Regions from separate parts of the Homo sapiens genome. Here region 2 is linked to region 1. The links come from fine-mapping of genetic effects on gene expression. A gene starts in region 1. The other region holds a variant in brackets. All regions are shown on one strand. Distances are from middle to middle.

Region 1 (5,211 bases):
GGGCGAGGGTTGCAGGTGGGCCACTGCAGTTGCTGCGAGACCAGGTGCTTTACCTCGAGAATAAATCTCAATCCACCGCCTTCTCCCTGTCTTCACCAGCAGCCAAGGGCAGGCCAGCCCAGCTCCTCCCAGCCCTTCCTGCTCCACCCCTTCCCCTTCATCCACTCTCCCTTCAGCCCCTGGAGAGATGGCTTAGAAACAGACCAGAGCACACCACTCCCCTGCCTAAAACCCACCTGTGGCTTCTACTGAACTTGGGATAAAACCCACGCTCCTCTGTGTTCTCCCCCAGGGCCCTGCTGAACTCTTTGGTTTCATCCGCCTCCCTGCCCGAGGCTCGGCCTCGCTTGTGTTCCTTAAATGCACCGAGCGGGCCCCATTCTCCTGGCCTTCGCACGTGCTCTTCCTCCTGTGCTCTTCCAGCAGATCAGTCAGGGCTGCGGCCTCCCGCGTCTTGGTTTTCACTTAAACATCTCTTCCTTTAGAGAGGGCAAGATGATTGTCTCCACTCCCACCTTTCCCCTTGTTTATTTACTTCCCAGCACTTTTTATTCACTGAGTCAACAAATATCGATTGAGCACCTAGTATGCTCCAGGCACCATTCCAGGTGCTGGGGATACAGCAGTGAGGGGATACACCTCCCTTACAGGCTTCTCTTAGGCTGGGGAGACAGACACCAAATCATGGAGATATAAAGACATAAATTATGCACCGTGTTTGATGGTGATAAGAGTTGTGGAAAAGCAGAAAGAGAGAAATTAATTGATCGGTGTGTCTCTCTCCTCTGCGGAAGTGTGGGCTGAATGGGGGCTGGTGCTGAGTCTGGCTCGTGCCCCAGCATAGCCCGAAGCCCACACAGTGCCCACACATAGTAGGTGCTCATTGGGCAAATGAATGAATCAGTAGGGCCTGGGAGAACAGGGCCTGGGCGGAAGGAGAAGGTGCCCCAGTGAGAGGGAAGAGCGGGAGCAGGGCCTAGGACCTGAGGAGGTCCAATCTGGCCAGAGCAAATGGCCAGGGGAGGGAGTGGTGGGCTCCGAGGCTGGCACGGTGGTGGGCAGAGCTGGAACCACCCTAGGGAGGGTGCGTTTCAGCCCAGGAGGTTGACACGTGGCAGGCCAAGGTGCCTGGGAGCTTATGTAAGGCCCGTGGCTGTTTTTCTGGAATCAAGAGCAAAGCCCTGAGCTCAGGAGAAAACTCCGCCTCCCTGACCAGCCAGGGGAAGTGGCAGGAGGTGCCAACCCCTGCCCGTTGCCCCCGGGAGCCAGAGAAATGTCCAAATGCATCAGCTCCGGGTGGCTTGGTCGACAGCCCAGCAGCAGCTGGGTGGGCACCAGGGACGTGGACCCCATCTCTCAATCCCACGGCTCAGACTGGCCCTGTAGGGGTTCTAGGATCCCAGGGACCCCAGTGGACAAAGTTTTAGGGACTAGTACCCTTTGGGGTGAGGTGGTGAGGGGCAGGCCCTGGGAGTGGCTGTCCGTCCCATCTTGCCATTGACTGGTTGCGGAGGCTCTCGGCCAGCGAGGGCACCATCAGTTGTCATGAAGCCCGCCTGGGGGTCTGGTGCTGGGATTCTGGCCTCTCAACACCACCTAGTGCTTCACTTGGCTGGGTGCATAGCCTTGACAACCCGCTTTGTTCTCTTGGCCTCAGTTTCTTCACCTGCCAAATGGGCATAATAGTCCTCCTGAGGTTGTTGTGAGCATCAGACAAGGCCAGGGAGTAGAAGTGCTTTGAGTTGGAGTCGGAGCCAGCAAGATGATTTGCATCACCTAGAACAAAATGAAAATGTGGGACCTCTTGATAAGCAATTAAGAATTTCATGTTGGTGACAGAAGAATTCTAAAGCAAGTTCAGGGCCCTTCTGAGCACGGGGCCCTGTGCAGCTGCCTGAGCCACAGACCCAGGAAGCGGGCTCTGACCGGAATTCTTTTTTTTTTTTTTTTTTGGTGACAGAGTCTTGCTCTGTTGCCCAGGCTGGAATGCAGTGGTGTGATCTTGGCTCACTGCAACCTCCACCTCCCGGGTTCAAGTGATTCTCATGCCTCAGCTTCCCGAGTAGCTGAGATTACAGCGTGTGCCACCACACCCAGCTAATTTTTGTATTTTTAGTACAGATGAGGTCTCACTATGTTGGCCAGGTTGGCCTCAAACTCCTGACCTCAGGTGATCCACCCACCTTGGCCTCCCAAAGTGCTGGGATTACAGGTGTGAGTCACGTGCCTGGCCTTTGACTGGAATTCTATTTCTGCTGTTACTCTGCTACATGTCTGTCCTGTCCCTTCTCTGGGCCTCGGTTTCTTCATCTGTAAGGCAAGGAGGTTAGACTCTAAGATTCCTGGGTTCTCAGCCTTGTAAGGCAGTGGCTGGGAGGTCCCTGGGTCAAGGGCTCAGCTGTAGGTCTCAGCTCAGGGGTTACTTCCTCAGGGAAGCCAACTGTGATTCCCTCCTGGCTTGCCAGCGTTCCCCCAGTCTCTGATTCTGCAGCACCCCAACATTGCCTTTGTAACCTGCATTGTCCTGGCAATAATGTCTGTCTTTACAATCACCTCTTTTTTCTTGCAAGTTTTCTTTACCTTTGATGGTGCAATAAATACATAGCTCTAGTCTTGTAAAAAAGTTAAGATCCCTTCCTTCCTTCCTTCCTTCCTTCCTTCCTTCCTTCCTTTCTTCCCTCCCTCCCTCCCTCTCTCCCTCTCTCCCTCCCTTCCGTCTTTCTTTTCTGTCTATAATTACTTAAACATTTTTTCTCTTAAATAATGAAAGATTTCAAATACAGAAAATTGCCAATAGACAAAAAAAAAAGAGTTAATATCACAATTATATTCTAAGAAGGCTTTATTCTCCCCACTATCTTCGTTTGCCAAAACTGAGGCTCAGCCAGGGTGAGCAGACTTGCCCCATGATCACCCAGCTTGGAAGCAGATTCCAAGTTGGGTGCAGCTGGGCCCTCAGCTGTTTCGTAATCCTCATGCAAGAGTGAGGGTGAGGGGCCTGTGGGGCTCAGGTGGGGCTGTCAGAGCTGCATCCGTCCACTTATTGGTGGAGAGGCAGGTTGGGGAGCATGTACCAGGCCTGTCCCCACCACGTGCCACCCTCTCTGTCTTCCCCAGGGCTCCCAGCTCAGTGTGGACATGGCTGAGAGCGCCTCCCCGCCCTCCTCATCTGCAGCAGCCCCAGCCGCTGAGCCAGGAGTCACCACGGAGCAGCCCGGACCCCGGAGCCCCCCATCCTCCCCGCCAGGCCTGGAGGAGCCTCTGGATGGAGCTGATCCTCATGTCCCACACCCAGACCTGGCGCCTATTGCCTTCTTCTGCCTGCGACAGACCACCAGCCCCCGGAACTGGTGCATCAAGATGGTGTGCAACCCATATCCTCCGCAGCCTCGGCTGATCGGGGCCCTGCAGGGGCTGAAGGGTGGGGGGCTGGATTGAGTCCTGCTGCTCACACCTTGCTCCGGCTGGGAGACCTGAGGTCTGCGGTGAGGCCACTGGGCCTTGGTGGTGGTGAGCGAGCTCAGAGGGTGGGTCTGGGGAGACCTCAAATGGATGAGGACCTGGTGTTCTGCTGATGTGAAGGTTCTGGAAGTTGCTGGTGGCTGTGGGGTCAGTCCAGTGGCTGGCTGGCTCAGAAAGTCCTTGAGTGTGGGCCCCAGACCTGTGCTGGGCTGGGAATGCAGATCAGTCAGACTCTGGAGCCACCTGATGGGCCGTGACCATACAGAGGATGGGAGCCGTGATCAGGAACTGTGGGCGTGGGCAGCGGGGCAGCCGATCCCAACACACAGGGCAGGACTCATTCTCCTTACTGTGCCTCCGAGCAGCCTCTTCCCAGGCCTCCTGCCTCCACTTGCTGCCTCCAGTGGGCTCATGTTCCCCCTGCTTAAGACTGTCATGATTTGCTATGGTCCTGGAGGTGCAGAGCAAAGTCCTAATCCAACCCATCAGGGCCTGTGTGTTCCACCCAGCCTCACTTCCCACCACTTGGCTTCCCCCCTGTGCTCTTCTGAGCCTCAGGGTCCTCTCACTGGCTCTTCCCCCTGTCTGAAAAGCTTTTCCCTTCCCCCTGGACCTGGCCAAATCCTTTGCTACATCCTTAAAATCCCAGCTTAAGCATCACCTCCTCAGGGAAGCCCTCTGGGATTCCTCCTCTGCTTCATATCTAACTGTCACATCTAACTGTGGAATTCTGAATCTAACATTTGCCTCCCCTGGGGTACTGTCAGATGACTGGGATGGGGACCCTAGCACCTGGCACAGTGCTTGGCACATCGTGGGTGCTCTGGCAGTGTTTGCTGGGTGTACATGGGCAATGCCAGAGCTGACTCCTCAATAAGGAAGAGCGTTGGTTGGGTAGAGAGGGTAGTGGGAGGCAGGAGGAGGGCATGGCAGGAGCGAAGCCTGGAGAAGGGAGGAGTTGCAGGCAGTGTTGGAGCCCTGAGGGGCAGAGAGGAGTGAGGTGAGGCTGCAGGTGTGGCGGGAGCCCTGCAGGGCCTTGGAGGCTGCATGAGGGATGGGACTGTGCTCCAAGGGCAGGATTTGAAGCAGGGTCTGGAGAGATCTGTGCTCTGGAAGGACTGTGTGGCACTGGCTTGCAGGGTGAAGTGGGGGCTGGGGACCACTGAGGAGGAGGCTTGGGGACCCAAGCCATGGTGGCCTTGTGGTTTGAGGGTCCCACCAAAAAATGCCCATATGTGGCTCGAGGTTCTGGTGCTTGTGGCCACACAGGGCAGGGTGCGGGGAGCTGGTGGGTCAGGTGCAGGCCTGAGTCCTGCCCTGGAATCCAGGGATGCCAGATGCAGGCTGGGATGTTGAGACTGGCTGCAGGACTGCCAGGCTTCCCTTCTGTAGGGGGCTGAGGTGATCGTGGGCCCTGGATCCCCCTAACTTTTGGAAACCAGCGGGTCTCTGCTGGAGTGGGATGCAGAACTGGGTGTTCCTTGCTGGGTGGGGGCTAAGAGCCTCCCTGCTCCTTCTGGGGGACGGCTCACAGCGTCTCAGGCTTGGTGAGAGGGTCTGCTCGGTAATTAGTTCACCCAGCACTCACTGACATCTGCCCTGGGACACTGAGGACAAAGAGGCAGAGCTGGTGTCTGTCCCAGGGAGTGCCCGGGGAAGAGGGAAGCAGGGACCACCCATTTGGCTAGTTTTTTTTTTTAGATGGAGTCTCGCTCTGTCACCCAGGCTGGAGTGCAGTGGCGCGATCTC
Region 2 (5,211 bases), 110 kb after region 1:
CAGGGAACGGGGACAAGCAGGGGCGGGATGAGACTCCTCATTGCCTGATGAGAACACACAGGAGTGGGGTGGGGAGGGGTGGGGGCAGGAGTTTGCAGGCATGGTGGGCTCCTTGCTGAACAGGGGTGAGAAGGAGCTGGGAGGCACACAGCCAACACACACGCATGCACCCTCTGTGTGCACACACCTCCCCCAACACACAGGCAACTTTGCATAGCACACATGGACACACACTCCCACTTCCTTATGACGCCATGACCCATGGGGTCCAGTCTCAGAGTGTGATGCAAGGAACCCAGTCCAACTGGGAAGATGTGAAACACCTCCAGTTCCTCGCTGGCATTTCTCAAACACAGTGACTGGGACGCACGGTCTTCAGAGATCCTTCTCCCTCCCCTCAAGGTAGTTCGTACACTTCTTTTAAAAGCCTCCTGCCTCAGGGCGAGCCCAGGTGCCTCTTGCTCTTCTGCCTGCCAGAAACTCAGCGAGTGATGCCAGAGTCCTCTTTATCGAGAGGGGAAGAGAAGAGATGTGGCCACTCACGCTGGTCCTTTGTGCCCGTGACAGTTCATGGCCCACCCATTCACACACTTCATAGACCTCAGTTTCCATGAGTATGCCCCGTCCTCGGGGGCTTTTCTACAGTGACACCCACGCCTTGTGTCCACATGTTTTTGTGCATGCCCCACTCACCCTGTGGCTGCACCCACATTCTTGTAATGTGGTATCTGAGAGCCAGACTCTGCTTGCACGTGCCTTCATGTTCTCTTCTCCCAAGTTTACACACGTGCACACATGCGTGCACACACACGTCCCCACCGGCCTGGGGCTGAGTGGGCAGGGCTGGGTCTCGCCCGCAGTGCTGAAGCTGTTGAAGATGGCCACAGGAATGCGGGCCCTGCTGGACACGGTGGTGCAAGCTTTGCCCCAGGTAAGAGCCACTCTTTCTGGCAGCCCTCCTAGGGGTCATTGGTGTCAGGCTGGGCCCTGGGGCATGAAGGCCCTGATTTCCCTTCTCCTCACATCTGCCAGAGCCAGGGCAGATGCTGTCTCTGGGGATGCATTTTGAGCCAGGGGCTGAGAGGCAGGAAGGGTCCCTTTATGCCTCTTTCTTCCAGTTTCACCATGTGGTTGCCAGTGCCACTCTGTGTCCAGCCCTGTGCACGCACTGAGGGTCCACATTGTGCCCTTGGTTGCCCCCAGGCTGGTGGAGGGAGATGGATACTTCAGGGAGATGTGGGGAGGGACCTCCAGCATGCTCCAGAGAGAGAGAAGAGTGCCAGACACTCCCTGGGGAGATCAGGGAAGGCAGCCTAGGAAAGGGGACCTTTGAGCTTGACTTCCAAGGGTGGCTTGGCAGAAGGAGGTGGCAGTGTGGATGGAGAAGTTCCGAGATGGCATTCCAGGAGGGGCAGCATGAGACCCTGACCCAGGTGGGGATCTGAGAAGTTAGGGAAGTTGCTCTACCCGCACCCTGCGGTTAGTGAAAGGGGAGATGTGATCAGGGCCACAGAGGGCATCTTTTTCATCCTCCCGAGAATTCTGCAATCCCAGTCCTTCCCTCCCCCGCTGTCTTGACTGCTTGAGGCTCCCCTTCCCCCTCCCCTCAGGGTGGCCTCTGCTCTCAGCTGAGCCTCAGGCACATTTATTCATTATGACTCAACGAGTCATCAGGAAGTTTAGGTGCCTTAAAATACAAGGCACAGATACTGCACATTAAAAATGAGGATACAAGATTAATGGCCCAGGGAAGGTGGAAGCAGAGCTAATTCTTTCGGGGACCGGGGCTAAGGACATGGGTGAGTTCTGTTCCTGAATTTGGTGTGAGCTTCCCAGCAGCCTTGGTATAAAGGGAAAGTGGCATGGTCTGGATGGAAAGCAAGGGCATTCATTCAGAGACGTGGTTTTTCCTAACACTAAACCCCTTCAGGGGACTTTGTCCCATGGGAGATGGGGGTGATGCTGGGCTGCAGGCTGTGCCGACAGGAAGTAGATTGGAGCCCCGGCTTGGGCCATAATGCTTGAGAGCAAAGCCTGGGCCCTGGGCATGCGACTTAGCTTTTCGTGCCTCAGTTTCCTTGCCTGTGAAATGAGGATGGTGGTGAAGCATCGCTCCCTCAAGCGCTTATTTCAAAGGGCGGCGGTGAGGTGTCAGATGGTTAAAGCTTATGAAGCACTTAAGAGGTCTGGTTCATGAGAAGTGCCATTTAAGAGGCTGCTAGGGGTGGGGATGGTGAGTGTGTGGCTCGGCCTCCCTGGCCTCCTTGCTCCCTCTCCCCTTCCCCATGCTCTGACCCCTGGGCGGTTCTATCATGACTCCCAAATCCAGTGTGGAGCTGGCATGGGGCACGGCACATGGAGATGTTCAGGACATCCCAGCCTCCAGCAGGAGACCCAAGGTAGTCATTACAAGTGCATTAGCACTTGAGAAGAAGCA[C/T]GTGCCAAGTGCCACTGGCCGTGAAATGGTGCTTACCCCTCAAAATCCATTTGCTGTTGCTCATGTTGTTGTATGGACATTGGCCATTTCCTCGATTCTACGTAAAGTGCTAGGAAAATGAAACTTCAGCCTCTTCCCACCAGTCTCTGCCCCAAGAAGAGGGAGGAGGCATCAGAGAAGGCTTCTCAGGGGAGGTGACCCATGGACTGGGCTTTGAGGGGTGGGGAGGAGGCATTTTACAGGCAAAGATAGAGGGTCCTCCCTGCAGAGGGAAAATAATATGCCAAGGCACTGTGGGGCTGTTTTCTGTGTGGCTGGAGTGTGTGGGATTGGAAGATCAGGCTGGGAGGGGGGTCCCTGGGGGCCAGGTCACAGCACACCTTCAGTGCTAGGGCAGCAGAATTGGGCTTTATCTTGCAGGCAGCAGGTGCCACAGGAGGGTTCTAGACAAGGAAGGCTGCAGCCGAGCTGCCTTTGAGAAGGTGGCTCTGCTGGCTGGGAGGAGAATGGATTGGAGGGAGAGGCTGGAGGCAGGGAAGCTGGTGAGGAGGCTGCTGCAACCCTGCCGGCTCTGAGATGCTGACAGCAGGGAGGGGACAGATAGAAAAGCTGACGGCAATCCTGGTTAAGAGATGCTGCCCCCGCCGGCCTGTGCAGGGCACAAAGCTGAATTCCTAGAGCCGCGACCACGCCAGATCCTTCTCAGCGGTCAGGGCCTTACAGTTGGCCTCACGGGTGCTCAGTAAGTGCTTGTTTTATTAATGAAGGGAACATCATTTAATTAGTCAGACACTAGCAGTGTAGAACGGCTGGCCAGGAAACCCTGCTCTGGAGTGGAGCGGAGAAACTCGAGGAGTGGTGATTAATGGGGTTTACTTTTCAGCAGTTAACGTGAACGTTTTCTGAGGGTTCTAAGGCCTTCTGAGGGTTCTAAGAGATATTTCATTTCTAGGGCAAGAATGTGTTTTAGCCTTATCTTATCCATAGCATGAGTTAAAGGTGGTCTCCAATGCATGGATAGATTTGAACTAGGTTTGGAATCTGGGACGCTTTCTCCCACAGGAGCTGTGGGATGGGGGTGGCTGGGTTTGCAGAGGCTTCTGGGGCCCACGGGCCTGCGTGATTCCTGCCTTCCCTCCTCTCTATGGCCAGGCCTCATGCTGGCCCAAGGAGGCAAATCTGACCTCATGCAGCTGTGTTCCTGCTCTTGAAGATTTCCCAGACCAGCAGATGACAGTGACAGGGATAAGTGCATTTCGGTGGTTTCGTAGAGGAGCTAGTGTTAGAGCTGAGACCTCCTGCCTTCTCCCTTCCCTTCGTTCATCCATCCATTCAACCTTGGTAGCCACTCAAGGCGTGTAGCATAGATTGTGTGCATGGACCCTGGGGCCAGCCTGCTGGGTTTGGACCCTTGTCCTACCAGTTACTAGCTGTGCGACTCTGGACAAGTGATGTCACCTCTCAGTCTGTCTCCTTCTTCTTCTGAAGAATGGGGATAAAAGATAGTTCGTGGATTATTGTGAGGAGGAAGTGAGCTCATGAACCTTAAGTGCTGGAAATGGGACAGCTTGTGGTAAAGGTGGCACAAGTGTTTTCTTGTTATTCTGAGCCCTGTGCTGGACCCAGCCTGCCCTCCAGGTCCTGTAGGGGTGGCAGACGTGGACACACAGCCTGGGGGAATGTTACAGCTGCTCTGACCCACAGGCTGCCCAACCCCACTGCCCCAGCCTCCACCCTTCCCAGGCCTGGTGCGCCCCCACCCGCTCCCCAGCCCCACCCGGCCTCACCTGTCCTCCCGCAGGTGGGCAACCTGGGCCTCCTCTTCATGCTGCTCTTCTTCATCTATGCTGCTCTCGGGGTGGAGCTCTTTGGGAAGCTGGGTGAGTGACTCCCAGAGCAGGCCCGTGGTGGGGGTGCAGCAGGGCTGCAGGAGGAACTGGGGGGGCGGGGGAGGCCTGAGACCCCTGAGCCCGTCACATCAGGGTCTTTGTATTGGGGAGATGCCTACAGCAGGGCCCTCAGCTGTCTGGTCTCCCAGGAAAACTGCCCTCCCTACCCCGGTGTTGGTGCCTGTCCTGAGCCAGCGCCACCCCAGCAAGTGGAGAGGCCAGGGCAGGGGAAAGAGCAACAGAGCGCTCGCTGAGCTCCGCCCTGCACCGGGATGGCTCCAGAAAGCAGGGTTCCCCGAGGGGCTGGCCCTCACCCCATTTCACCCTCTTTCTCAGAAACCCATTCTTCGGCGGGGAGCAGAGCCAGACTCACCCAAACCTGAGCCCCAGCTCATGTGCCATCTCCCCGAGCCTCAGTTTATCTGTGGGCTGGGCACAGTCTGCAGGCCCCTCCTAGGGTGTGATGAGGGTTCTGAGGCGAGGCGGGAGGCACCAGGTCAGGGTGAGCCCCGCAGGCACTCCGCCATCGGGCAGGGCTGACCTCCTCCCCGCTTCCAGTCTGCAACGACGAGAACCCGTGCGAGGGCATGAGCCGGCATGCCACCTTCGAGAACTTCGGCATGGCCTTCCTCACACTCTTCCAGGTCTCCACGGGTGACAACTGGAACGGGATCATGAAGGTACTCCTGGGCGGGCTGGGGTGGAGAAATCAGCCAGGTGCTGGGACAGTGAGGATGCTGGTCCTGCTGCTCAGGGCTCTGCCCACCCAGGGCCCCACCACACATGGGAGGGGCATGCAGGGCACGGAGGAGTGGAGGGGCCTGCCCAGGACCAGCACAGTGGGGAGAGCTGAGCCAGAACAGGCCCCCTGTCTACACTGCCTCA

What was found. PIP is the estimated chance that this variant, and not a neighbour inherited with it, causes the effect.
Region 2: its variant is the best candidate, but not a certain one, in a credible set for the expression of CACNA1I in whole blood (TOPMed, PIP 0.67).

The regions. Positions count from the first base shown.
Region 1 is chr22:39,567,615-39,572,825 of GRCh38, forward strand. CACNA1I (calcium voltage-gated channel subunit alpha1 I) reads left to right here and starts at 3,139. Exons shown (of 37, transcript NM_021096.4): 1 at 3,139-3,374. The coding sequence starts at 3,139.
Region 2 is chr22:39,673,103-39,678,313 of GRCh38, forward strand. It overlaps CACNA1I (calcium voltage-gated channel subunit alpha1 I), which reads left to right. Exons shown (of 37, transcript NM_021096.4): 29 at 861-931; 30 at 4,239-4,317; 31 at 4,885-5,006. Among named protein-coding and RNA genes, the nearest start is that of CACNA1I, 100 kb to the left of the region's middle. The variant C/T (reference allele first, on the strand shown) is at 2,438.